3 linked regions of the Homo sapiens genome follow. The protein of the gene in region 3 interacts with the protein of the main gene of each other region in a pairwise test. Each region holds a gene or a part of one and is shown on either strand. Other genes may lie near its edges.

Region 1 (4,424 bases), on a different chromosome or scaffold from region 3:
GATAGTGGGAATTGGCATACATAATATATACCGTTCCTTTTTACCCAAGAAGCACAAGGTCTGATTATTTTAATACTTTGGATGGACCTTAAGCTTGTACTACATGGCTGAGGTCTTTCTGCATTTTCTGTGGTTAGTGTGTGCAGCTGGTGCAGACCTGGGGTAGTTCTGCTGCCTCCTAGCAGTGTGTTCTTGGGCAAGCTATGAATACGTCTCTGAGTTCTAGTTTCATCATTTATAATGGATAAAAATAATAGTTAATAAGCTATAGCGAGGATTAACTGAGATAATATGTTTTTGTTGTTAAAATAAGCAGTGTTTTCAGTCTCCTTTGGGAAGAAACCCATTCTCTGTCTTGGTAAGTAATGAAATAATAGTACTTTTAACCTCTTTTTGGAGAGAACATAGACTTTGGGTCAGACAGACTTGGATTCTAATTCTGGAAATTCGGTAACTAGCTAAGTGACCTGAGACAAGTGCTTAATTTCTTTAAGCTTCAGTTGTAATCAGAAAATGGAGATCCTGGCTGGGCTCGGAGGCTCACACCTGTAGTCCCAGCACTTTGGGAAGCCGAGGTGAGAGAATCACTTGAGCCCAGGAGTTCGAGACCATCCTGGGCAACATGGCAAAACTCTGTGTCTACAGAAAATACAAAAATTAGCTGAGCATGGTGGTACACGCCTGTAGTCCCAGCTAATCGGATGCTGAGGTGGGAGGATTGCTTGAGCCTGGAAGGTTGAGGCTGCAGTGAGCCATGATCGAGCAGCTGTACTCCATCCTGGGTGACAGAGCAAGATTATGTCTCAAAAAAAAAAAAAAAAGAAAAGAAAAGAAAATGGAGATGCTGCCTAGTTTACTTGGCTGTAAGGGATTAAGTGAGGCTATATGTTGAGGGTCAAGAACTGGCACATTGTAGGTGCTCAGTTAATGTTACTTCTTTTTTCTCTACCAGAAGAAAGGGAAGTGTTACACATTTATTTTGGTTTTGGTGACTGATTTAAAACTTATGTGGGTTTTAATTTAGTGGAATAGGATCTTGCAGGAACAAATTTCATTTCACTTTTTATCTTCCAATTTAATACTCTCACACAAAAACAGTTTTTCACTTTAGTATTTGTTAAGCAGATGAATTATTTGTGGGTAAAGAAATGAGCATTGCTTAAATCTCTTATTAGTATGCAAACTGCCCACTGTTAAAACCTTTCTTAGAGGATTATACAATTAGATAAACGCCTTTTTAGAGGTATTTTAGGTAAGATAATCTTACTTTTTAATGAATTAAATCATCCACTCATTTAGTTGGTCATTTAAACATTTGTTTGTCATGTTTGGGTAAGGAATTGTGCTGGAGTCTGTGTGAGACTTCAGGATATTTTTGGTGTTCAGTGAGAGGCAGTGTAGAATACTGGTTAAGAGCCAAAGTTGGCTGGGCGTGGTGGCTCACGCCTGTAATCCCAGGGTTTAGGGAGGCCGAGGCGGGCGGATCACCTGAGGTTCGGAGTTCAAGACCAACCTGACCAACATGGAGAAACCTTGTCTCTATTAAAAATACAAAATTAGCCATGCGTGGTGGCACATGCCTATAATCCCAGCTCCTCAGGAGGCTGAGGCAGGAGAATTGCTTGAACCCGGGAGGTGGAGGTTGCAGTGAGCCGAGATTGCACTCCAGCCTGGGCAACAAGAGCAAAACTCTCTTAAAAAAAAAAAAAATCCAAAGCTGTGGTGACAAACTGAAAATGTAGCTTCTGCAGCTTACTGTTATCATGGTCAAAGTACATTTTTCTCATTTGTAAAGTTGGGTTAATAGTGACACCTTTTACAGTTATTGTGAATATTAACTAGGCTAATGTTTATAAAGCAGTTTTCATAGACCTAGGCACATAGGCTGCCAAGCAAATTGTACCTTCTGAAGGCCCTGGCATATAGTGAATACTGAAAGGGAAGCTGCTGTTACTTTGTTTTCTTTTGAAATAGGTGATTATTTGTTTTATTGAAATGAAAGAAATTAAAGGCTCTTTGGATAAAGAAGAACTGATGATCAAGGGATTAGGGTACTAGTTCTAGCTCAGTGACCTTGAGCTAGTAGGTATTTAACTGGTCTCAGTTTTGTTGCTTTTAAGATAAAGTAGCTAGACTAGATGACCTCTAAGATTTCTTCAGACTCAAGTGTTCTGGTTTTAAATTGTGATTTTTCAATATAATCAACTTGAGCATCTGTCTACTAGGTACGTAGCATTGTGTTAGGTTATATGGGTTAAAATAACATAAAAAAGATAGCATATGTTTTCCAGAAGGTAAATAACTAGTTGGGAAGTTGTAGGCACGTGAAACACTGGACGATTCAAATAAGTACTGAATTAAGTAATGTAGCTTGTAAGTGGTGTCAGATTCCTGTCATTTAGAGTGGTTAGAAGAAAGGCTTCCGTAGAGGGACAGAGACCATATGTTGGTCTACTGGTCCAGCAGACTAGCCATGACCAGCTTCCATTTTACCTACTAGTACATCCTCAGTAAGTCATCTCAGCTCTTTGATAGAATGAGATCACAATATCCCCTTCTGCCACAGTATCACAGGGGCTATTTCAGAACCATCTGACTCAGAGCTTTGAACTGGATTGCCTAGATTATCTAGGGCTTTCATCTCTTTCTTTCTTCCTTTTTTCTCTATTTCAAAACTTCTGCTATTGCCTTTTTTTCTCATTTTCGTCTCTCTTTTTATGGTAACGTTTTTTATTTCACATTCATTTTATTATTTCTGATGATTTCTGTTTGAATATTAAATCAAACTATTGCTATTATCTACTGTCCTCACAGATTTCATAAAATCTACTTTTTGAAGCTTTTGGTTTTTTGCTTTAGTTTGAGATGGAGTTGCGCTCTTGTTGCCCAGGCTGAAGTGCAATGACGTGATCTCGGCTTACTGCAACCTCAGCCTCCTGCGTTCAAGCGATTCTCCTGCATCAGCCTCCCGAGTAGCTGGGATTACAGGTGCCTGCCACCACACGTGGCTAATTTTTTGTATTTCTAGTAGAGATGGGGTTTCACCATGTTGGCCAGGCTGGTCTGGAACGCCTGACCTCAGGTGATCCACCCGCCTCGGCCTCCCAAACTGCTGGGGTTACAGGCATGAGCCACCATGCTCGGCCATGAAGCTGTTCTTTAGTGAAAAGAATTTTGCCATTTTCTATTACTTTTTGCCCTATTATGTATATATTATATGTGTGTGTGTATATATATGTATTTGTACACATATAAGGTAATTCATTTGCTTTCAGAAAGCAGATACAAAATGACTTTGAAAGTTGTTTTTCTTCCCATAGGTTACCTGCAACTCTTTTCCTTCAAAGCACTTCTTTATGCAGTCACTAGGATTTGATGCCTTTTAAAAAATTCAGCAAAAATGTTATAGGTCATATAATAATAATCTAGATTTTAAAATAATGTATATTTTAAAATACTATATATTAAGCTTAGTAACTACTATGCTTAGTATAGTGACCACTGTTAAGCCCAGTAACCACTGAGCATTACTATTAAGCTTAGTAATCACTGAGTCAATAGATATAAAATTAAAATGTGATTAATTGGTGAGACTTCATGGATTGTGCTCAAAGCCAGAGTTGAAAATTACTGACCAAAAAATTGTTCTGGTTTTGAGAAATGTCATTTTCCTGATTCGGCTTGTTTTATTTTGTTCATTATTTTTATTTAATTTGGGAGGATCTCAAAAGTATTTATTAAGAGTGGACTGTGGAGTTGGTGGATATAAGAGTATATAGGTTAAAAGTGAGCAATGGTGTTAGGATTCAAATCTCAATTCTGCTCACTAGCTTGCAATCCTGGGCACGTTATTGAACTCTGCATCCCAATTTTCCAAACTAAAATGGGGGTATAATAACACCTACTTTATGAGGCTGTTGTGAGGATTAAGTGAGATAATACATGTGAAGTTCTGTGTCTGGCACTTAGTAAACAACAATAAGTGTTGGCTATTAATATTGTGGTAAAAAGTAGTACCTCAAATTGATAAACAATTGTAGTATGCATATATTAGAGTGGCTAAAATAATTAGTATTGGTTGTCTCTGGGGATTGAAGAGAAGATGGGCAGAGGACTTCTTATTATAAGCCCTTTTGCCCTATTTGATGTTTTTAAAGACGTGTGCTTTGCTACAAGGGAGTGTTTATTGAGAATCCAAGTATGGTCTTGACCCTTTGCTAGGCTCCGAAGTAATAACATTTACAAAATAACACATTGTAAAATGATGTAAGATTAACTGTAGACCTTCAGATACCTCAGGATAGATGAGGGAGAGTGTGTCTGTGTGTATTTTTTAAAATTAGAAATGATTCGTGGTCCTCCTTTCCTCCTAGAGAGGGTTGTAAGGGTATGTTAAGGTAGTCAGCATTGAACAGTTAAGGTGT
Region 2 (4,424 bases), on a different chromosome or scaffold from region 3:
AAGGCGGGCGGATCACCTGAGGTCAGGAGTTCAGGACCGGCCTGGCCAACATGGCGAAACCCCATCTCTACTAAAAGTACACAAAAATTAGCCGGGCATGGTGGTGTGTGCCTGTAATCCCAGCTACTCAGGAGGCTGAGGCAGAAGAATCGCTTGAACCCGGGAGGCAGAGGTTGCAGTAAGCCGAGATCTTGCCACTGCACTGTAGCCTGGGTGACACAGCAGGACTCCATCGCAAAAAAAAAAAAAAGGGAATTTTGTCTTAAGGTCTTTGTCCTTGATGGTAGTGGATGTGGAGAGTAGATGAAGTCCAGAAATTTTTCTCAGAGAGGAAATCATCAGTACCTAGAGATGGATTGAACATAGCAAGTGCAGGAGAAGGACATGTCAAGATGTACCCCTACTTCAGATTCACAGAATAGGATGGATTCTATCATTCCATGAGCCGGGATCCTGAAAGAGGACCAGTTAGTGTGTGGGAGTGGGAAACATGAGTGGGTCTATTAGCTTGAGACATCCAAGTGGAGATGTTGAGTAGAAAGTTGAATGTACTTGTCTGGAGCTCAGGTGAGGGGTCTGAAATGGAGATTTGAATTGGGAAATCATCAGTGTATAACTGAAGCTGTGGGCATTAATGAATACTTATACTGATTATAGGATGAGAAAGAGGAAGGGGCATGAGAATAAGCCATAAGAAACTCCAGCAGGTAATGGCTAATAGAGGAAGATGAGCCAGCAGAGGAGTCTAGGAACCCAGCAAACAGTAACAAGAAGTGTAAAAGATGAGATGAGATGAGGAGTGTGGAGATGAGAGTGTGGAGGCCCCGGATAGAGGCTGGATGAGAGATTCACGGGGTCAGATGCTGCTGGGAGGACAACCAAGACGAGCACTGTGTCTGTTGGATTGAATGACACAGGGGTCATGTTGACCTTGGTAGGAGCTGTTACTGAGTCGTGTTGGGAGTGGAAGCAGGTTTGGAAAGGGTTGAGGAGTGAGTGGGAGGTGAGGAAGTGGCAACAGTGAGTGGAGACAACTCTCTCAGGAAGTTTGCCTGTATGGGGGAGGAAAGAGAGCAGTGAGTGGATCTGGAGGAGCGTCAGGTCAAGTTGGGAGACCGTGGATCCTATTGAGAAGGAGAGGTTGATCATATAGAGGAGAAAATAGATAAACAGTGGTATAAAATTCCTGGAAAGGCATCATAGGAAGAATCCAAATCATAGGTGAAGCAGTTGGTTTTGGGAAGGAGAGAAAGGGATAGGTGCTGAAGTTTGGTTAGGTTTTTATGTTTGAGGATGTTACCCAGTTGGATGGCTTCCCTTTCCTCTGTGAATCAGGAGGGGAGATCAGCCTCTGAGACGGGTGGCCAATGGAGAGTTATGTCCTAGTCTCAGGCAGGCCTTTGCTGATGTCTTGGCTGTAGTAAGCCCCAGGTTCCTGTAATGCCCTCCTCTTCCTCCTTCATGATATTCAGTCAACAAATAGGGAATGCTATGGGTGCCAGGCACTGTTCTAGATGTTGGTGTTACACTGCATTGTAACAAGTTGTTCAATGACTGTTTCCCGCTGAACTGAGAACTCCTCCAGAGGAAGAACCATTTCTTTTGTCTTCATCACTCTCCCCTGTGTCTAGCACAGTGCCTGGCATATGGGAAGCTGTCAGATTAGACAACTCCTGACTTTGAGCAAGACTCAACCCCAACCCCTGTGGTCTGATGCCAGGATCTTCAGGCTTAGTGACTACTTCTTTCACTTCCTGCCCCGAGGCCCCTGCCCAACTCCCTGCCTTGAGCCAGAACCCAGTTGGCTCTTTGCATCCTTTGGTAACTCCAATGAGAGGGGAGAGATTAGGTTGTGTTCCTTCTTTAAAAAATTGGACTGAGATCATCTTTTTGACCTCGAGCAGTGGGGTGTTGGTGACCACACCACCTCAGGCTAGATGCTCAGGCTTCAGCACTTAAACAGTTTCACCATTCTTCCTCTAATACTTCCTGCCCTGGTGACCAGATTGGCGGGGCTGCCCTGAGGTCAACTTGGCTCTTCACTGTTTCAGCCTCACAGTGCATGCACTCTTCTCAGATCATATCTCCTAGTGCCTAGGAGGTTGGTCTCTGCCTGACCTTTGAGAAACCTGGCTCTGTACACTACTGCTTCAGAGAAGGGTTTGCCATCCTTAAGGTCCTCTGAGCATGGCAGAGTCGTGGAGTCTTCTGCTTCCTGACACCCATGGAGATGCCACTCTTGAACAGTGTCTGTGCCAAGATGTTGGTTTAAGCTACCTCCCTCGCTCCCTTTTCCTAGATCTCAGCCCTCACCTCTCCAGGATTCCTGTCCCATCTTACTTCCCACTCAGGGACCCTTTGGCATTCTCTGACACCCTCCCAAACACTCCCTTTGCTCCTCCCCAGCCCATTGGGCCACACAGCCTTTCTTGGTATTTATTCCCAGCCAGTTCTGAGCTTCCTGGATCCTCCCACCCCCTGTGTCTGTCCCGTTCATCCGTCCTTTCCTTCTGCAACAGCCCAGTCTGTGTCGGCACACGGCACACTCTCTTTGGTAATGGGAATGTGAAATTGAATAAGACACCGTCTCAGATATTCTGATAGAATGTGGTTCTGGGTGTTGTGAGACACGAAGGAGAGAACAGTCACTTGATGGTGGGGAGAGAACAGGAAAGACTGCTTAGGAGCTGTAACTGCTGAGGTTAGTTTTGAAATACAAGCAGAGGTTCTCACAAGGGGAGACAGAATTCCAGGCCGAGGGAGCAGTATAAACAAAGACCCAGGGCTTTAAGAGTGTGCGACATGTTTCAGAATCCGCCACGCTTCATGTGGCTAGAGTATAAGGTATAAAGGAGGCGGGAGGTGGGGAGGGGACTGACAGGTTATAGAGGCCGGCTTAAGAGGGCTCTTGGGTGTCTGCGAACGAGTGCAGGCGTTATCCGAAAGGCAGTGGTGAGCCCTCTCATTTTCTGAACCAGGGAGTGACACAATCTGGTTTCCATTTTTGGAAGATTACTGTGGTTCTGGGAGGAGGTAGAGCTATTTTTTTCTTCATTTATTCCAGTGGCTGTGAGTTTTCTCATTGGCCAGGAGGAGTCACACTGAGCAGATCAACAGCCCCACGTGAGGCAGACACGTGCGCAGAAACCTTTTTCATCTTACAGATGTGTGGGTAGCATAGCACTAGTGTCTGAGGAACTAGAGACGTAGAAAGGTGAGCTATGGGGCCGGGCGCGGTGGCTCACGCCTGTAATCCCAGCACTTTGGGAGGCTGAGGCGGGTGGATCACCTGAGGTCAGGAGTTTGAGACCAGCCTGGCCAACATGGTGAAACCCTATCTCTACTTAAAAGAAAAAAAAAAAAAGAATTACAAAAATTAGCTGGGCGTGGTGGTGGGCACCTATAATCCCAGCTACTCAGGAGGCTGCAGGAGGTTGCAGTGAGCTGAGATCGTGCCATTGCACTCCAGCCTGGGCGCACCGCACCTGGAGAGATGGGCAAGCCCTGCTCAGGTAGCTGCAAGACCTGTGCTCAGCGCTGAGAACACAGAGGGAAGGGGGGTAGTGGTGAGTCAGGGAAAGAAAGAACTCCTTAGTAGAGGAACAGGGAGATAGGGAACTCTCAGATAAGACATCAAGGAGAAAGGTCTGTACAGTGGGAATGAGAAAGAGCACAGTGCAGTGTTTGTTGGGATGGTCAGTGAGGGAGAATTGTCTGTTGGGGGAAGGGTCGGGTAGGGCAAGAGAATCAGTGAGGCCATCGAGGGAGGAGAGAGTAATGTGGTAGGGGCTGTCTGAAGGAGGGCTTGCATGGAGGGCTCAGGATGAGAGAGAAGTGGGCAGTGGTTGGTCAGGGAGAAATAACTGAAATCGGGGGCTGGTGAGGGTCCAGGGAGAGAGCACTTTCTCTTGGGGGTCCGGGAAGGAGAGCAGCAGAGCAACTGGAAGGTCAGGGAGAGTGGGGAGGATGGAATGGGGCCGAGGGTGGGTCCCTGGGTGGCGGGCTGGAAGGATAGTTGGGACTCAAATGGTTGCGGAGAAACTGACCCACGAAGGGCTGTGAGGAGGCAGAGGGAGGGGTCTGGAGGGGGAGCTGTCCTTGCGGAACAGGACGTCCTCTTACCTGAGAGGCAGGTGGAGTTTGTTTGGGGCACCATAAGGCATAGTAACGTAACCAAAGTGTTTTCTGACACTGGCAGAGGAGATGCCAAAGCGAAGCCTGGAGGAAATGGGGACTGATTCATACATTCATTCAGCAAATATTAATGGAGTTCCTGCTCTGTGCCAGGACTACGCTAGGCACTAGGCATACTGTATTTAACCAAAAAGGCAAAATCCTCACCAACATGGAAATTATAAATTATAGTCATGAGGAGACAATCATTAGACAAAGTAAATAATAAATTGGCTTGTCAGATGGTGACA
Region 3 (5,544 bases):
GCTGCTGGAGGCTCTTCTATTTTGAACACCCGGCTTCTAAGGATGTCCTGGGAATCAGCTTCCCAGTTAAGGGGAAGAGGAGAAGAGTGGAGGGCAGGTCTGGAAGAGGCGTGTGCTGCTGCTGTTCCCATTGCATTGGCTGGCACCCAGCGGTAAGGCGACATCCACCTGCACGCAGGACTGGGAAGTATAGCCCAGCTGTGTGCTCAGGGAGAAGAGCAACAACATTCTTTGCAGCAAAACCTGAAACACTCAGTTTCACTTTCTGTGACTTGTTTTGTAAGTTGTTTTCAATAAAGAAGATTAAAAAAAGAAGCCAGGCAAATGAAAGCATAGGGGAGGAGTGGCAGACACGCAGTTCTCACTCTGCGACTGCAGGAGTGTCTCTTGTTTCCCCCTTGTGCACTTTGAGGAATGAGGGGATAGACGTGGTCCCTTCCTTTTAGTTCCCCGTAGCAGAGTTCTTGTAAGGACTCGTTCAGGGGAGACTGATAAGGGTCTCATCTCCATCGGGGGACCTCACCAGGGCATGGAGTGGGTCAGAGTGGGCTGGGAGGGGATAGACTGTCATCAAGGTGAAGAGATTTGAGGGGTGGTGGAGGGCTAAACTCCAGATCTGACCACTTCAAAGTCAGCAAAGGCCAGGAATTGCTGGGGTAGGGCTAAAAGCTGAGGGTTAGCAAAGAGAGGTGGGTCCTGGAATGGGGACCCCTGGGGTGGAGGACAGAGAAGTCACACTGTTAGAAAGCCGTCACAGAAAAGGCAGTGTGGGAATGAGCTTACTTAAGCCTAGGGAATATTCATTTGACAAAATGGTTTGTGTACATTCTGGTTTTTCTACCCTGACACCTGAGGGCTCTAACACATTTCTGTTGGTTATTGTGGAAGAGAGTGTCCAAGGGTGGGAGCACAGATGCCGAATTTGGTGTGTAGGAGACCAATTTCAACAACTCTGGGGGCCTTGTAGAGTTTGCAAAGCCCCGTAAGTGATTCTAATCTCTCTGCACCCACAAGAACCCCTAGTTTAGACACAGCTTCCCTTTATCTGTGGTCATTCACCACAGATAATTTCATTCCCTAAAGAATCACAAGCAGCTTCTAACAGTAAATGCCCTTTACAGGAGGTGTAAAGTGCACTTGCTGTGTAGAGAGGGAGGCATACCATGAGCTTTGCGTGACTCAGGGAAGGAGGATTTTTATGGAAGAAGTAGCATTTGAGCATTCTTATTTTGATAAAGTTATTTTTGAACTGCTTTTTAAAAAGGTATATTAATAAGAATAGAAGGGTGATTAGAATTCTAGTGTAGTGTTTTGGTTTTATTTTTAACCATTTAGCAAGAACATTAATGCTATTAAAACTGATGTGCCTTAGGAGACCCTCAGATTGGTGTGGTAGTCACATATTTCTTCTGACGTTTCTGTTGCTAGGTGTTGACATAGATTTAGAGATAGGTGTTGTCACCCTCAATGTGGGTGGCTTGAGTACTTACATATATATTGTCTCATTCTCTGAATTCAGCATGGCAGGTTATTATAATCCTCGTTTTCATAAGCAAGGCTTTGGCGATGAATATACCTGCCAAGTGTGGGTCTTCTCCTGCACCCCACAGCCTCGGAGGGGCTTTAAGGGAACATTAAGTGTAAAGCGTGTAATTGCAGAGGAGGTGGACACAGGGCTCCTGCGGAGGAGGTGGACACAGGGCTCCTGGCTCCCAGTTCAGAGCATCACAGCACCTCTCTCTGAGACCAGAGATACAGGTTAGTTTTCCTGACCTCCAGCTGACGTTAGAAAAGTTATTTTTGATACATATATCCAATAAGTCCAAGGGGTGGGGAATCCAATAAAAGTGTTAATAAAAATCCAATAAAAGTACCAGCTCTCCCGCCAGCCAAACTATGGCTGGTAACGCCATTCCAGTTATATAGGTTACTTATCTTAGTGCACAGAGGCCAGATCACCAGTCTAAGCGCCCCTCCCCCGGTACCGAACCTCAGTTCCTCCCAGGGTGGCTTCATGCCAGAACATATTGGAATATACCGGGACTCCCTTGAAGCAGAACACAGTGTTCCAACACTCCCATTAGCACTTTCTGTTACTCCTGTGTCTTTGTTAGATTTCTGCAAACACTTAATCTTCGCAACAAGCATTTTGGATTCAGACGTATTTTCTGAGATAAATACATAAATAAAAATCTATCCTGTTCATATTACCTTTTCCAAAGCAGTTCCCTTTGGGACTGAACATTTTTGATGTTCTGTCATCAGTCTGTTGTGAGCTACCAGGGAGGTCTCCCTGTGGGAGCAGTTCTGTAGTATATTCCTAGGGATTAGAGTGTAGGCTCCTGGACCTCCCAGCCGAATTCTTCTCCCTGCTCCTCATCCTTCTTGACCCACTCAGTATTCACAGAACGTGTGCTGCCTCAGTCCATTTGGGCTGGTATAACAAAATACCATAACTGGGCCGCTTATAAGCAGAAGTCTCTCTCACTCACAGATCTGGAGGCTGGAAGTCTAAGATCGAGGTGCCAGCAGATTTGGTGTCTGGTGAGGGCCGCTTCCTGGTTCATAGACGGCACCTTCTCTTTGTGTCCTCACATGGTGGCAGGAGTAAGGGAGCTCTCTGAGACCTCTCTTATAAGGGCACTAATCCCATTTGTGGGGACTCCACCCTTGTGACCTTATCACTTCCTAGAACCGCATTTTTTTTTTTTCTTTTGAGACACAATCTCTCTCCATTGTCCAGGCTGGAGTGCAGTGGCACAATCTTGGCTCACAGCAACCTCCACCTCCCGGGTTCAAGTGATTCTTGGGCCTCAGCCTCCTGAGTAGCTGGGGTTACAGGTGCCCGCCACCACACCTGGCTAATTTTTATATTTTTAGTAGAGATGGGGTTTCACTATGTTGCCAGGCTGGTCTTGAACTCTAGACCTCAAGTGATCCACCCACCTTGGCCTCTCAAAGTGCTGGGATTACAGGCATGAGCCACTGTGCCTGGCCCAGAGCCCCACCACTTCATACCGTCACCTTGCGGGTGAGGATTTCAGTGTGTGAATTTCAGGGACATGAACGTTGAGTACATGGCACAGACTATATGTCTGGCCCCACGCTATCTACATACAGAGTTACAGCAGTGAACCAGGTGGGCTAGCTGCTTACCTTGGGGCATGCTTACTGTCTTTTCGACTCTCAGGCATGTGATGAGACATCTCCATCTCATTGATGGTCATTATCAATGCACCGTTGTTACAGTGAGGTGGCTGCAGAAGGCTTCGATAAAGCCATTCTTACATACTTCACAAAAAACGTTCCAGGGTTCACCCTGCATGTGTAGGTACCTCTTCTATACAAATCTGCCAGCCTCTGTTTGTAGCTGTTTCCAAAAGCCAAATGTAGAAGGCCATCATAGATTTGGGTGGGCATCAGACCCTTCAACTGAGCCTGATTTTCTCACTGGTTATGTGCCTTTTCGTTGACTTTCAGAAGCCTTCGGTACCTGACACACCATTCAGCTAAGCAGGCCTGCAGCTGGCCTGAGGTCCTGGGTCTCAGATATGAGTGGTTTGATGTTGATCTTGCTCCTTTGTGATTTTTTGTTTTGTTTGTTTTGTTTTGTTTTGTTTTTTTCCTTCATGATTTTATCCATGAAAGCTTTTCTTCTCCAGGCCATTGTGGCAGTAGATGTTCACCTCCTATTTAAGTGAGATATTCACTCTTGGTAACTTTCTTTAGTGAGTGTCTCCAGTTATTTATTTTATTTTTTTCCTTTTTTCCTTACCCTTCATCAGGACACATAGTGTCTCCAGTTCTAATTGTAGATACTGTACTGACCAGCTCTGAAGCAATTGGGACTGTTTGAGGAGAGAGAAAAGCAGGCATGAGTCCACTCTGTTGGATCTATAGGGCCTGTGGATTTGCTGCCCGGAGTCCTGCAGCTGCTCCTGCTGTTGAGCATTGTGTGGGGCACCTCACCCAGGATTTTCGGGTGTTCTGGAAGCCATGTTGCCGCTCTACCTGTCTCTTTTGCAGATATGCCCAGAGGTCCCCATTCAGGCAAAATAGTCCTTGCGTTATATTTGTAATATGAAGGGTTTTGAACACAGGAAATAAAATTTCATCTTATTTTTTAAAAAGAGAACAACAAGACTTTGTTTTCTTTCCAATGTAGAAAACTTCAAATTTAGTTTTTAATGTAGAGAAACTTCACATTCATATTTTGTTTCTGTGTGAATAAGATGATTTGCTGTTGTTTTCCTCTAAATAAACTGGTCAGCAACATTACAGAACCAGCACAAACCAGCACAAAACCATCAAAGTGGAGGGGGTGTTTGCTTTTCTGTTCATAATAAGCGAGACATGTTACTGGTTAGTTTAGAAGGTATTTCCAGTAATACAGAATTGGCTGTATTTGGGCTGCTAATACACTTCCTGCTTTGCCATTAGGTGGCATCTTTATAATTTGAAGGATATTTCAATGTCTTAGGCAGGCTACTCACATAAGCCTTGTTAAATAGAGGAAACAGGTAAGTTTGTATGCATGCAGTTGGATAATTTGACAGACAGTTTTGAGCATATTTTCTCATCTGTTCCTGATGACACTTATCAGACTTAGATGAGATTGGGCGCGTTCAGGGTGGTATGGCCGTAGACCTATCAGACTTAGAGACCTGAGGTGCCCTGAAGCCATAGAGCAACCAAGTGGCCAGCTGAGGGTGCCAGCCCAGCCCTCCCGCCAGGCCCTCGCCGGCTCACCACGCTGCGCTGTGCTGCTTCGTGAGAGTGAGCGCATCTGTGATTGCTGAGGCCTGGCGCTCATGGGGTTGCACCCAGCTTCTGAGTTCAGGTAGTTAGACGATTTCCAGCGTCCTTTCAGAGGGGCTCTCAGAACTGCTTTTGTTTGTAGAATTGATTTTGGAAAAGTCTTAAAATATTCATGAAGTTTTTTTTTAAAAAAGCTGGTATTAAACCTTGAAAAAGTTAACTGAAATTTGGAAGGGTGATTTCTGAATTAGCTAGGGAGGAATAATGAAAAAATATTGTAAACTATATCAGCTAAATCACTGGGGTCTTGGCTTTATGTATTTTCAAGCTTAAAGGAAATGTCAAGCTGGGCACAGTGGCTCACATCTGTAATCCCAGCACTTTGGGAGGCCGAGGTGGACGGATCACTTGAGGCCAGGAGTTCGAGACCAGCCTGGCCAACATAGTAAAACCCCGTCTCTACTAAAGATACAAAAGTTAGCTGGGTGTGGTGGAGGGGGCCTGTAGTCCCAGCTACTTGGGAGGCCAAGGCAAGAAAATCACTTGAACCCAAGAGGTGAATGTTGCAGTGAGCCAAGATTGTGTCACTGTGCTCCAGCCTAAGCAACAGAGGGAGACTCTGTCTCAAAAAAAGAAAAAAGAAAAAAAAAGAAATGTTGAGTGAGATTCTGGCATTTGATACCATAGTTTAGTGGTGGAGTATTCTTTATTTTCTTTTTGAGATGGAGTTTCACTCTTGTTGCCCAGGCTGGAGTGCAATGGTGCGACCTCGGCTCACTGCAACCT

The links.
Region 1: the proteins of FBH1 (region 3) and ZDHHC17 interact in a two-hybrid assay, tested with the Homo sapiens proteins (one large-scale study listed by BioGRID and IntAct).
Region 2: the proteins of FBH1 (region 3) and APBB1 interact in binary tests that used the Homo sapiens proteins (3 or more experiments, as listed by UniProt).

Annotation. Positions count from the first base shown.
Region 1 is NC_000012.12:76,766,214-76,770,637, forward strand, and holds part of ZDHHC17 (palmitoyltransferase ZDHHC17), read left to right. Parts: intron 1-4,424. UniProt on the Homo sapiens protein: Palmitoyltransferase that catalyzes the addition of palmitate onto various protein substrates and is involved in a variety of cellular processes.
Region 2 is NC_000011.10:6,412,572-6,416,995, reverse strand, and holds part of APBB1 (amyloid beta precursor protein binding family B member 1), read left to right. Parts: intron 1-4,424. UniProt on the Homo sapiens protein: Transcription coregulator that can have both coactivator and corepressor functions. Adapter protein that forms a transcriptionally active complex with the gamma-secretase-derived amyloid precursor protein (APP) intracellular domain.
Region 3 is NC_000010.11:5,895,713-5,901,256, forward strand, and holds part of FBH1 (F-box DNA helicase 1), read left to right. Parts: exon of another isoform or gene 1-1,346; coding exon of another isoform or gene 1,347-1,758; intron 1,759-4,820; exon of another isoform or gene 4,821-4,840; intron 4,841-5,544. UniProt on the Homo sapiens protein: 3'-5' DNA helicase and substrate-recognition component of the SCF(FBH1) E3 ubiquitin ligase complex that plays a key role in response to stalled/damaged replication forks.